4 linked regions of the Homo sapiens genome follow. The protein of the gene in region 4 interacts with the protein of the main gene of each other region in a biochemical or structural test. Each region holds a gene or a part of one and is shown on either strand. Other genes may lie near its edges.

Region 1 (3,500 bases), on a different chromosome or scaffold from region 4:
GATTAGTGGTGTACTGATGTTATCTGCTATTATTCTTATCATCACTACCTGTACAGGAAATGCAGAAATTACTAGATCTGCCAAAAGAAGCCAATAGAGGTCAAAAGACAACACTCAAATGACAGCTCCTACTCGTTGCAGGGGTTTGCGATGGCTGAATGCGTTCCCACACGCCATCCCCTCTAGGCCTCCCAACTGTGATGTGGGTGTTATCTTCACCCAAATTTTACACAAGGGGAAACTGAGGCTCAGAGAGGCTACTGCAGAACTAAGACATGAAGCCGCATCTCTAACATCAGGCTCAGGGCTTTTCCCCCAGGGCTCTCGAATTGGAGGGTGCTACGGACAGGCACCTACCCAGTCTACAATGAGGATCTTGCTGGCCTTGCTCTGCTGTTGCAGCTGCCGGCAGGCGATGGCCACTGAGTTGAAGAAGCAGAAGCCCCTGGAAGGAGAGACAGGTCCTGCCAGCCCATTCTCTCCACATGCCCTCACCTCCCCAGGCCCCTGGGTTGGCCCAGCCTGAGAAAGCTCAGGGAAGAAGAGAGAATGTCCCTGAAGGAAGTTCCTGGGGGCTTGCCCCCCACCTCATCCCACCCAGGTCTTCCCTTAGCCTTACATGGCTGTTGAATGATCTGCATGGTGTCCTGGGGGCCGCACCACAGCGAAACCATTCTGGAAAAAGAAAGAATGCTTGTCAATCAACAGACAGCTCTGACCCACAGCTGCATGAACGTACCCCAAGAGTTCCAATCTCAACCTGGTTCCCAGAGCCCTCAATTTCCCCTCCAAAACCCTGTAGCAATCTCTAAGAGGAATGCGATGCCTGGGGTTCTGGGCCTGGATTCCCCACTACCCCACTCTGCTTCCTCCTTTGTGGTGTGTCCACCTTCAACCCAAACCTCCTACCTTTAGCTCACGAGAAGCCACTTTGAAGGCGAGGTCAGTGACACTGCCAGCGGCCCAGCGGGCTGCATTGGAGGAATGAAGCTCATTCCAGATGGTGTCAGTGTCCACCTGCGGGAGCCAGAGTCAGGGCCCGCATCATCCAAGGCTTCACACAGGAGCCAGGGCCCAAGGGGGTGGTCCCCACCCCACGGCCAGGACCCCAGGGGCAGGGAGCTGGGCAGACAGTGCTGCCTCCCCAGTGCCCCACCGCCCAAAGGCAAGGCCTCCTGTGTCCCCCAATCCCAGCATGACTTTTTCCCAGCTTAAGTCCCAGCACCAGCCCATTATCTGGCCAGCACTCTGCTGGCAGCATCACGCCTGCCTCCCCGGTCAGGGGAGGGGGCATGGCGTTACCTGGGCGGGACTTGGGGTTTGGGCCGGGAGGGGGTTTTAAGCCCCAGCTGACTCTGCTCAGGCCCTGCGGGACGGTCGGAGCTGGAGGGGCCGTCTGCACCACTGTCTTCCACTCAGGGCCCCTAGCCCAGGCTGGGAGGCCCCCCAAACCCAGTCCCTGGGCCTCAAGGCTAGGGAGGGGCCGGGGGGCATGATGGGGAGATGGGGAGGGCGAGGCAGACCAAGAGAGGCGAGGAAGGCAGAGAGAGTCGCAAGAGGCTGGAGAAAGAGAGAGAGAGAGAAAGACAGAGAGGGAGAGGAGGGAGGAGAAAACAGAAGCAACAACAGTTGGAAAAACCAGAAAGTGGCAAGAAATGGGAAGTTGTGAATAGGGCACTGACTGGCTCCCAAAGTCCCCCACCAGCTACAGCTCCCACTTTCCCTCCGGAATGAGGCCTCCATCCCCTGCCTCTACACACCTTGCTTGAGAAACTACTGCAGGGATAGTGTTAGGCGAGGAGAGCTGAGCCGGAGGGAGCGGGAAGCTCCCTTCACAAAGGGGTGAGGACTTAGGAAGCAAAGCTCGCGAGCGGAGTTTGGGGCTATGTCCCGGAGTGGGGAGTGCTGGGATCGCCAAGGACACCGGAAGCACCACCGTGATGTCACACCAGGCAGCCCAAGGTCTGGGGACCAGGCTGAGGTACCCCAACTTGCCACTTAAGAGCAGACAGAGCAGCCTGGCGGCCAATGCCCAGTCATGGGGGTCTTTGAAGGGAGAGATGATCCTAAGCCCCAGCCTTGGCCCTGCTCCTGAAACCTCACTCAACATCTACCAGACACCTTCTAGGGGAAGGCTTAGGCTGGACTCCGCATTCGGGGGAGACTGTGGGTCCGAGACACGCCTGTCCAAAAGGAGCTTCCTGCTGCAGGGGGCACCTCAGGAAGTCCCTGGCTCACCCTGTCTGGCAGAACCACAACAAGCAGAGGTTCTGCAGGGGCTGGGCCTGGGAGAACCACAGGGAGGAGAGCTGAGAGCCCTGGCAACGCCCCCCTGAGACCCCTGGGCACACTTACCCCAACCCCACCACAGGGCAGCATCACAAACATCCGCTGTGCCAGGAGCCCTGCGGGGAGAGGCCCAGCCCACGTCAGCGTGAATACTCTCAGCCTTTGGCCCAACAGGGAGCAGGGAGCCCAGAGAGCAGGGCCGGGTGAGTATTGGGGGAGAGAAATATGGAAGGGAGAGGTGGAGGTGGGCTGAGGAGGGGCTTGGCAGCAAGCTGGAGTAGGGACGTCCAGGGTGCAGGAGGAGGCTGGCTGGGCGGGCAGAGCCGAGACAGGAGTGCATGGGAGCTGGGTGAGGTAAGCTGGCATGGGGAGACAGGGCCACTAGGCCATTACCTGCCAGCTTCCCGTTGTCCAGTTTGAGGCGGCTGAGCGGGTTGGTGCCGTAGAGGAGCACGTGCCGCTCAGAGTGGACCGACTGCAGCTCTTCCAGGGAGGCCTTCCGGCCTCGGAGACACTGAAAAGGGGACCACAGAGCTCTGAGCTCATGCTCGCCCCTTCCCTCCCATCACCACCACCCCATGTGCCCCTCATCTCTCATGGGCCCCAGGGCCCCCCACCCCTCCCCTCCCATGACTCCTCCCTCCACCCATTCCTCGGGCCCCACCCGCGCCTCCTCACCTCACACTGGCTCCGGAGCCCCCGCTCCTGCAGCCGGGACCAGATGCTCTGGATGCGGCCGGCGTGCTCCGGGTGCCTGCTGTTGTCACCGCAGGAGCACTGGTGCTTCAGCATGACCGAGTCATAGATCAGCCCTGCAGGAGCAAGGGTCAGAGCGGGGACCCAGGGAGTCCTCACGCCCCATGGCCTTGGCTGCAGAGAACACGCCAGCACCGCCACAGCAGGCACCCACATGGAGCCGGGCGGGTACACACCCCTCACACCCACACAGGCCTGCATTTCATCCTGCCCCTACCCCAGCCCCAGCCCCTCACACCTGTCCACACACGCCCAGACACTTCCCCAGGTGGCAGCAGCCAACACATCAACACAGCTCCAGCCAACATGGCTGCCACAGAGCCACGGCCTTCCCACATGCGGACACGACTGCTGGGTGGCCCAGGACTCGAGGGCCCAGCACCAGGCCCTCAAGTGCTCAGAGCAAAGCATGAGGCCTAACGTACAGCATCTCACACACGTGTCATGAACCCAGA
Region 2 (3,500 bases), on a different chromosome or scaffold from region 4:
ATATAAAAAATAGCCAGGCATGATAGCACACACCTGTAGTCCCAGCTACTCAGAGGGCTGAGGTAGGAAGATTGCTTAAGGCTGGCCAGGAGATCAAGGGTGCAGTGAGCTGAGATTGTGCCACTGCACTCCAGCCTGGGTGACAGGGCGAGACCCCATCTCTTAAAAAAGAATTAAAAGTAAAATTATCACACCTGTAATCCCAGCACTTTGAGAGGCTGAGGTGGGCGAATCATGAGGTCAGGAGATCGAGACCATCCTGGCTAACACGGTGAAACCCCATCTCTACTAAAAATACAAAAAATTAGCCGGGCGCGGTGGTGGGTGCCTGTAGTCCCAGCTACTCAGGAGGCTGAGGCAGGAGAATGGTGTGAACCCGGGAGGCAGAGCTTGCAGTGAGCCAAGATCGCGCCACTGTACTCCTGCCTGGGTGAAAGAGCGAGACTCCATCTCAAAAAAAAAAAAAAAAAGTAAAATTATGCACACATTATATGCTTATGTGTTTAAGCATATTAATATTAAATATTTTTATTGTGATTACTTTTGGCTTCTGTCATCCACTCATTTTAGTGAATCAGGAAAGTATTTTAATTGACACATGAGTTAAATGACATAGTTTACTGCTCTGCTGCACAAGAACAGCTTTTAAATACAACAGCATTACCACTTATGCAAGAATCTGAATTCGAACAAAAAATAAGGCTCAGTAAAAATTAAAATGTTATTTTTTATCTGTAACTTTTATATAGGGAGTTAAATTGTCTAGGCTTAAATCTGACCTTCAGTGTTTACTATAACCTTGGACAAATTAGATTTAACTAAATTCTGTGCCTCAGTTTCCTTGTCTATAAAATGGGAATATTGGTACCCTCCTCACAGAGTCATGAGGATTAAATGAGATACAGCATGTAGTAAGCCTCCAAACATGTTTGGCACATACCAACAAACCAAATGTTTGAGGCTATAATAGAGTTCTCCTAATAGGAATAGGGTATTAGTGTGAAATTCAGTGGAATGCTTGGGTTAATTCCTGGAAACACTAGATGGATTATACTCAATATAAGCTCCATGAGGGAGAGGAACAGTTACATGGCATGAACCTTTGAGAAAATATTTTAAGCAGACTGCTGAGTATCAATTTAGTACATGTCACGTTGCGGAAAAATCTCAACAAAATTAAATTATTTTATGAGGACGTGGTGGGACTTCCAAAGTAAGTATGGATAGAATTCAGAGAGAAGTAAAATCACCTTTTAGTAATTAAGGAACTTTATTTGGTATGGATTTTTTTAAGTAATCCAAAGTTTGCTCAATAGCAAATATTTGGGAATGAGGAAAACAAGTATGTGTTCTATTTAAATGTCACAATTTTCAACTTAAGACTTTCATATCACAGCTGTATACTATCTTGCTTTTATAATATGCTTGGGATCATAAAATTAAAATTAGAGTCCTCCAAGCAAAAGTTGACAAAGAGCCTTTGTTTAATGCCATATTTCCCATTATTTTCCCCTCATTTCTATTTCCACTCTCTACCTGTAGGCCATGAGTACATAATTAGTTAAGTACATAATCAGATCTCTTTTAATTTCTCAAATAACAAAGGGTAATATGCCAATAGTCATACCTATTATTATCATTCTTGGTCTCCCTCCTTCAACAAGTAAAGATCTTTTATTTGTAGCAGTTTAAACATACACACATCACATGTATGATTTCGTGATATCTTACATGCAATCTCTTACTTTCTCACTTCTTTCTGAGACAAGCAATTGAAGAGGATTTAAAAAAAAAAAAAAAGGAAAATCAGAATTTATGTGAAGACACAAAAGTAATCAAAAGAAAGAGAATTTTGGCCGGGTGCAGTGGCTCACACCAGTAATCCCAGCCCTTTGGGAGGCCGAGGCAGGCAGATCATTTGAGGTCAGGAGTTCGAGACCAGACTGGCCAACATGGTGAAACCCCATCTCTACTAAAAACACACAAAAAAGGCCGGGCTCGGTGGCTCATGCCTGTAATTCCAGCACTTTGGGAGGCCAAGGCGGGCAGATCACCTGAGGTCAGAAGTTCGAGACCAGCCTGGCCAACATGGTGAAACCCCGTCTCTACTAAAAATACAAAAATTAGCCAGGCATGGTGGCACGCGCCTGTAATCTCAGCTACTTGGGAGGCTGAGGCACAAGAATCCCTTGAATGTGGGAGGCAGAGGTTGCAGTGAGTCGAAATTGCGCCACTGCACTCCAGCCTGGCTGACAGAGCAAGACTCTGTCTCAAAAAAAAAAAAAAAAAAAAACCAAACCCCAAAAATTAGCCAAATGCCTGTAATCCCAGGGAGGGAGGCTGAGGCACGAGAACTGCTTGAACCCAGGAGGCAGAGATTGCAGTGAGTCCAGATAGCGCCACTGCCCTCCAGCCTGGGTGACAGAGCGAGACTCCGTCTTGATAAAAAAAAAAAAAGAGAGAGAATTCTATACTTTAAAAATCCCTATTGCTGGCCGGGCCTGGTGGCTCATGCCTATAATCCCAGCACTTTGGGAGGTTGAGGCAGGTGGATCATTTGAGGTCAGGAGTTTGAGACCAACCTGACCAACATGGTGAAACCCTGTCTCTACTGAAAATACAAAAATTAGCTGGCATGGTGGTGCATGCCTGTAAGCCCAGCTGCTCGGGAGGCTGAGGCAGGAGAATCACTTGAACTTGGGAGGTAGAGGTTTCAGTGAGCTGAGATCATGCCACTGCACTCCAGCCTGGGTGACAGAGCGAGACTCTGTCTCAAAAAAAAAAAAAAATCCCTATTGCAAATGGAAGGTCCATTTATGCAAAATGTATTTCCTATTTCATCTAGCAAATCAAACATGGCTACCAGAAAAGCAGACTTAAGAATTGTGGTGTTTTTACCGCATGCTCTCACTCATAGGTGGGAACTGAACAATGAGAACACATGGACACTGGAAGGGGAACATCACACACCGGGACCTATTGTGGGATGGGGGGTGGGGGGAGGGATAGCATTAGGAGATATACCTAATGTAAATGACGAGTTAATGGGTGCAGCACACCAACATGGCACATGTATACATATGTAACAAACCTGCACGTTGTGCACATGTACCCTAAAACTTATAATAAAAAAAAAAAGAATTTTGGTGTTTTTTTTTTAAGAATACAAATTTCTTTTAAAACTTTGCTAAACTGCTAAAATAGGATAGGAATAATGTGTCCTTCTTAGTAGTCTGCACATCACAAATATGCCACTCCATAACTAACTGAAAACCAAAACCAACAAGTGGATTACACATGTTTGAATACTTCATATGTTACCAAGAGAACATTCTGCTCATTATATTAAGGGAAATTAAGTATGTGGGCTGAGCTTCCTGTACCTGGATCCTGCAGTTCATCTACCAAGGCAGTCTCTACCCAAACACTCTAGAATCTTCAGCATACATTTCTTTGAAAACTAAGAATTTTATATCTGGAGATCACAAAATATGAATTTT
Region 3 (3,500 bases), on a different chromosome or scaffold from region 4:
TAAGACTGTTCCTAATGGGTGAGAGAGCTGAGAGCCATTGTTGAGGACTGGAACCCTGTGGCCAAATATCTACTTTGTGCCAAGAGAAATTCATGTCTGATTGAGACTGCCTAGTGCTCAGAGTGACAGAAGATGTTCATATGTATTTAACACCTGTATTTAAATGAGTAGTTAAACATAAACATGTCATGGAGGTGAGAGATGAGAAATTACTTAATGGGTACAATCTACACTGTTTGGGTGACGGTTACATTAAAAGCCCAGACTTCACCACTCTGCAATATATCCATGTACCAAAACTGCACTCGAACCCCTTAAATTTGTACAAATAAATAAATAAACAAACATAAGCTGAAACAGACTGGCAGAACTAAAGCGGAGACAATGGCCTGAGACAGGCTACAGGAGAAAAGAGGATAATAAGTGACTGTTTAGTGTAGAAGCTGATCTGGATTAAATTAGGAAGCAGGTGTTAATGGATGCTTGAATTTTTTTGTTTATCATTTGCACTATATGGCCTTACTGTTCAAAGTGTTGTCCGTGGGCCAGCAGGAGCAGCACACCTGGGAGCTTTTTAGAAATGCAGGATCTCAGGCCCCTCCCTAGATCTGCTGAATAATAATCTTCATTTTAACGAGTTTCAGGTGATTTGAGTGCACAGTACAGTTTGAGAAGCACTGACGTATGTGGTTTCTTAGTTGAACTTTTGCCTAACAAAATTCTCTGTCCCTTCCTCCTTCCTTCTCTCCCTTGTACCACCTCTCCTAGTTTCCCAATCTTAGTTTCCTTGTGATCTGGCACATAACTCTAATCATGGCTGATAGCCCCAAAAGTAGTGTTCCCAATATATCCAGATAAAGAAAAGAAAAGAAAAGAGTGGTCAGATATATATTGTAAAGCACAGGTTTGGGCAGTAGGAAACCATTGACTTGGCCTCTAATTGTGCTGTCTGTATAACTTTTGTCAAGTTCCTTGACCCTTCTGAGCCTCAGTCTGTAAAATAAGGGTCATTATAGTATTTACCTCATAGTGTTGTTGTGAGAATGAAATGAAATGAGGGGAAGGTATGTAAACTGCCTAACACAGCGCCTGACACACAGTAAGTGCTCAGTATGTGGTAGTCATTATTATTGAAAGCCATCAGTTCTGAAGTAAACTTAGAACTATGTTATGATTCCAGACTTTCAAAGTCCCCATGAGTCTTTCTGGAGAGCCTCCGGAAAGCCCTGTGTACCTCATCCAGTTCAGCTTTCTTGACTCCAGTACCAGCAGTCAAGCAAAAGTATTTCTTATTCCCTTGGATTGTCTTCTTGTTTTTGCTGAATTACCAAGATTTCCTACTTTGTCATTGCAAATGGCCCACATTTTTAGTACATTAAAGCTAAAAACATCTTTTGTGGGCTGGTCTGGAAATGTAGTTCAATTTATAACAATTTTTTTCTCCTATGGAAAAATGCATGTCACCTTCCAAACAATTGACTTGAGAGTGAACTTTGAGAGCTCAGCCTGTCTGCAGCTTGGAGGCTCCCTGTATGTCAATATATGGAGTGGTCACAAAGGCTAGGTAAACCAAGTCCAGAATTCCAGAGGTGGCTGAAAGACAATTGACAATGCTACAAGGAGTGGAAAGTAGGGCAAATGGATCAATCTGCGTGCACAGTATCAAGATTTAGAAAGCTAATACAGGAAGGGAGATATACCTCTGGAAGGATATTAAAAAATAGCCACAATGACAACACAAACCATTTTTTTTTTTACTATATTAGGTCAGGGGCCCCTAATCGGTAGCTTGGGATCTACAAACAATATCAAGGCCTTGCAAGCTAACTCTCCAACATGATCGCCCTTCTCCTGCCCTGCTCTCTGCAGTTTACCTGGATTCTCAGCTCAGAGAGGAAGACAGTAAGCAGCATCTCCCCAATCCTCTTCACTCCCACACCCTGGTAGCCAGCCCCCAGATTCAGTAAACTTCCCTCTACCTTTAATTTCCGTCTTCCCAGGGAGATCAAGGCATCAGGAATATACAACACAGTTTTTCCTTACAAAAAGGATGAGGACTCCTGTATTGGGTAAAATAAGATGACTGGTGAAAACAGGGCCCCCAGGATGGAGAGGGCTGGAAAGACAGTAAGAAAGGACCATGAAAAAGCAAAGGACTTTTGTGCCTTCTCCCTGAAGTTGTTAGCAAGAAAACCAATTGTATCTGGGGGAACTCTGGGTTAACATGGCAGCAAGATAACACAGTCTGATACCCACCATCTAGGAATGCCCATTAAAATATCCATGAAGCTTTGCAACAAAAAACTAAAACTTGCACTAGCTACGGAAAATAGGGGAAAAGGGACTGTTAATTGCTAATGGAGAAGGAATTTCTGCTAGCTGTTGTAGGGAGATGGGGTTGGACTGAGGAACATATTTATAATCTACATACACTCTACCCTCCTATCCAGAACAGCAAAAGTGCCCAACAAAGTTGGGGAAAGATTTTGATTCACTTCTACCAACTGTCCTTAGATTGGAAATACAGAGGCTCATCAGAAAACCAATGTCATCCCTTTACTATAAAGAAAATATTTTCAGAGGCAACAACAGCTCTGTTCCACTTCTTCTACCATCAATTCCTCTATTTTATTTTTTTCTCTTTCTTTCTTTCTCCTTCCTTCCTTCCTTTCTTTCTTTCCTTCTTTCTTTCTTTCCTTCCTTCCTTCCTTCCTTCCTTCTTTCTTTCCTTCCTTCTTTCTTTTGTTTGTTTTTGAGACAAGGTCTCATTCTGTGGCCCAGGCTGGAGTGCAGTGGCACAATCACAGCTCACTACAGCCTCAACCTCCCAGGCTCAAGCAATCTTCCCACCTCAGCCTCCTGAGTAGCTGAAACCACAGGTGCATGCCACCACACCTGGCTATTTTTTTTTTTTTTTTTTTTTTTGTGGAGATGGGGTTTTGCCATGTTGCCCAGGCTGGTCTTGAACTCCTGAGCTTAAGTGATCCACCCGCCTCAGCTTCCCAAAGTGTTGGAATTACAGGCGTGAGCCACCGCATCTGCCCAGCTCCTCTATTTCCTATATGCTTTGTGGAGACCACAACTTGAGAACACCATGTGGCTGGTGATGGTGGTAGCGGTGGTTGGGGCCAGAGATTGTTATGGTTGGGGCCAGAGATTGTTATCGGGAAAAGTTCTGAACATAAGCATGCTTGCAGACATTATATCTGAAAAAATGTAATGTGTAACATGTAATTTCATATTACATATATAAATATGTAATATGTAATTTCATGTAATATGAAATAATGTAACATGTAACAAATTGCAGAGTTGAATGACCCAAAAGATCAGAGATGGAAGATTCCATCTATCTCAGTCCAGCCAAACCTAAAAATAATGATAGCAGCAACAATAACACTATCAACTGCCACCAGTTGCTGGGCAATTATTATATGCCAGACACTATATTAAGTACTTAACATGTCATGCATTATCTTACATACTCCTCATAGTAAACA
Region 4 (3,236 bases):
ATGGATCCAGTGTACTCCCTTTTTTTTTTTACAAAACTGGTAATATTATTATTACATAACACTCTTGCCTATCATAGTATTAATAATCTTTTCTGTCCTTTGTAGGTATGTGGACAGGATGAGGAGATTGAAGCATGCTCCATTTTGCTACCTTGAATAATTTATCTGCAAACAATTCCTCTTGTTCTTGGGAGAATGAATGTTCCTTTGAGGGATGCTGCAGTGAAGGATGATCCAAATATGAGATGTTTAGTGTGCATTCTGGACAGGCATTACTTCTCAGAGTATTAGGTTCTTCTTTTCATGAAGATGAGGAAACTTAAAATCATCTAAAATCCATGCTCTCTGCTCATGCTTTAATTTTTTAACAATTTGTATTAGTTTTTCTTTTCTAACAAGGAAAAGTTTGAAAGAGCAACTGAAAGAAGATCCTTCTAAAGCTATACCTTGGAGGAACACAATTTGATTAGGTTTAAGGAAAGTCAGTATTTATAGGCTTGTTTTCATGAAAAATAAGCTTTATTGAATCCCTTGAGGGGAAAAGCATAATTTTACAGCTTAGGTTTCTTCCTTCCCCAGTGATACTAGTTTCTCAAATTTTATCCTGAAATAAAACCGTGGGCCGATTGAGAAGCTAGATGGGCAGATGCGTGACAGATCACCATTGTCCCTGGTTGTTACATTAGAAAAGAAAGTTGTAACAGAAGGATTCTTTTTGTCAGCCTCTCTCCTAAAGATTCTATAGAAAGGTTCAGGAGTATTTTGATTGTTCTCTACAATAAAACCTAGGTTGTTCTCTTAAAAAAAATTTCAGGTGTTTTCTCTAAACATTCTCTAACATTTTAGGCTTTCTCAGCTTAGGATGAGCTTCTCAGGTGGTTGGATATTAGGACTGTACGTTATAGCTGACCACAGATTCTAATCTTGAAAAACTGCTTCATGAGACTGTAGAAGATAGCATTCTCTTAAGAACTTTCCAAAACTAAATGACTACTTACTATCCCCTGGGCTTATGAATTCTGTAAAGAATTAGCAGCTTTAGGTAGAATATGGTCAACTTTTTCTGAAGGTCCTTATTTAGAAACAAAGGAATACCCAAAGGTCTGAGTTGGCTGCCTGTCTAGATTACTTTTTCTTTTTTTTTTTTAAAGAGGCATCTTGTTCACTTGTTCATCAATTAATGCTCTTGAATCATAATTTTTATTTCAATGTCCATTTCATAAGAAACCTATTCACTGAACATTAAAACAGAAGGCTGTAAGAATGCAACAGACTGAGTGAAAAAAATACCCTTCCAAATAGATTTCACACGTCAATCTCCATCAGAGAAACATTTCCCATCTTAATGCCTCCCTTTAGAAGTAAATAATAATAATTTGAGATAAACTACACTTCTTCCACACCTAGATATACAGGGTTTTAATGCTAAAAAAAAATTGTATATTTTTCATGAGAATTTCTCTAACCCCGAATTTTGTAAATAAACCAGTTTAAACATCATTAGTTTGTTATCTATCCTCTATGTGTTACTTCATCTAGATATATACAAAAATTTGGAATGAATAAATGTTGGTTGATAAAAATATTACATAGCTGCTAATGGGATTTTTTAAGTGCAGCAAATTAATACTTAAAAGTTTGGTTCTGCTTATGGCAAGTTTTGTGTTTAAAAGAATTAAGTGTATATATATATATCTTCATATCCAGTCCAAAGAGGTCAGAAGAATATTTACAAAATAAATATGTAGGGAATTTTAGAATTTCATTGATTCAGATGAAGTGATAATTCCTTAATTAGCATAAATCTTTAGATTGTATCAACTATTGTATGCCGTATAAATTACTCTGATCAGTATTATTTTTTTACTGGTTAGAGTAAGAAATTACTCTTAAAGACAAAATCACTAAAAGACAGTTGTGGTTTTGATGAATTGCTATATAATACTTACTAAAGTTAGTTATGGGTATAGGCCTTAACTACAATTTACTCAACAATATATAAACTAAAAATGTCTTCTCCACTTCCTCAAAAAATTTAATTATTTTATTCAAATTTTGAAACTTTATTACAGCAAAATTCTAATTCAAAGTCCTTGTCATTTAATTTTAGTTTTCCAATACTTTCAAAGAAAACTTGGCTATAATACTCCTCTTGGTAAAGTTTCTTACGCAACTTTATGTGTTGCAAGAATACTATAAAATTTTAACTAACTAGAGTAGGATAAAATGCCAGTGCATATAACATCTGTTGCATTTATAATACTTCAATGTAATGTGCAGACAATGAAGTTAAGGTTTGCTGAAGATCCATTGTTCCGTGAGGCTTAATTCCTTTTCCAAAATTATAATTGGTATATGTGGTTCAAGGTAAAGTAGTTGAAAACTTCACAATTATACTTATTAAATATATTTCTGATTAAAAGTAGAATGTGCCTGTGAAAATCTGAAATCAATAAAAGAAATGTTAGCTATTTTAGAATGCCAAAATTAATATTTAAAAACAAACTAAGAATAAAGGGAACACCGAGACTTGTCTTAAAGAAGCTGTTTGTCATTCTTTTTTTTTTTAGATTACAACACACATACAATAAGTGAATTTTATCAAAATACAGCACATTTCTTCTACTATATCCATAAAAATCAATTCCTATGTAAATAGTACTGAAAATCAACTAAAATGAGTTAAAATTTACAAAGAGTTGTTAAAGGGTTTCAATCAAAATTATTAAAACTATACAGTACAATAACCAATTGATAACATCTTGAAAGAAGTGCAATATTTGAGTTCACATATTTTTAAAAGTGCTGCCTACTTACTCTGACTAGCAAGAATGGAAAGTGAGTCCAACTCACTTTTGCAAAAATAATGTTGGTTGGTGTTTTAAGCTAGTCTTATAAAAGTCTTAATTAAAATCAAGGTTGATAAACAAAGCATAACAGATTAAAAATTCCCAAATTGCATTTCTTAGTAAATAAAAATGAAGTGCAATAACCAAATATTGCTCTAATGAAAGGTTCCAGACTAGCCTCAACTAAACAGTTATTGGTCTTCTATGGCACTTTTTTCTGGTCCAAATAACCATGCATTAATCCTTACCATTACATGTTACTCAAATTTTATTTGATTACATAGAACAAAAACAAATAAAATTAATGGTCTGGATAAACAAAATTAATAAACCTCTATCATCAAATATTTGTTACAGTAACTAGGAACAAAGAAAGGCAGTTGGTGG

The links.
Region 1: the proteins of ERBIN (region 4) and HDAC7 interact in a test that uses a peptide from one of them, tested with the Homo sapiens proteins (one large-scale study listed by IntAct).
Region 2: the proteins of ERBIN (region 4) and FLVCR1 interact in a test that uses a peptide from one of them, tested with the Homo sapiens proteins (one large-scale study listed by IntAct).
Region 3: the proteins of ERBIN (region 4) and NCBP2L interact in a test that uses a peptide from one of them, tested with the Homo sapiens proteins (one large-scale study listed by IntAct).

What each region holds. Positions count from the first base shown.
Region 1 is NC_000012.12:47,788,904-47,792,403, forward strand, and holds part of HDAC7 (histone deacetylase 7), read right to left. Parts: exon of another isoform or gene 3,102-3,500; coding exon 2,968-3,101; intron 2,804-2,967; coding exon 2,683-2,803; intron 2,406-2,682; coding exon 2,356-2,405; intron 1,018-2,355; coding exon 910-1,017; intron 676-909; coding exon 620-675; intron 446-619; coding exon 358-445; intron 1-357. UniProt on the Homo sapiens protein: Responsible for the deacetylation of lysine residues on the N-terminal part of the core histones (H2A, H2B, H3 and H4).
Region 2 is NC_000001.11:212,864,775-212,868,274, reverse strand, and holds part of FLVCR1 (choline/ethanolamine transporter FLVCR1), read right to left. Parts: intron 1-3,500.
Region 3 is NC_000023.11:107,784,233-107,787,732, reverse strand, and holds part of NCBP2L (nuclear cap-binding protein subunit 2-like), read right to left. Parts: intron 1-3,500.
Region 4 is NC_000005.10:66,079,811-66,083,046, reverse strand, and holds the end of ERBIN (erbin), read right to left. Parts: 3' UTR 501-3,236; downstream 1-500. UniProt on the Homo sapiens protein: Acts as an adapter for the receptor ERBB2, in epithelia. By binding the unphosphorylated 'Tyr-1248' of receptor ERBB2, it may contribute to stabilize this unphosphorylated state.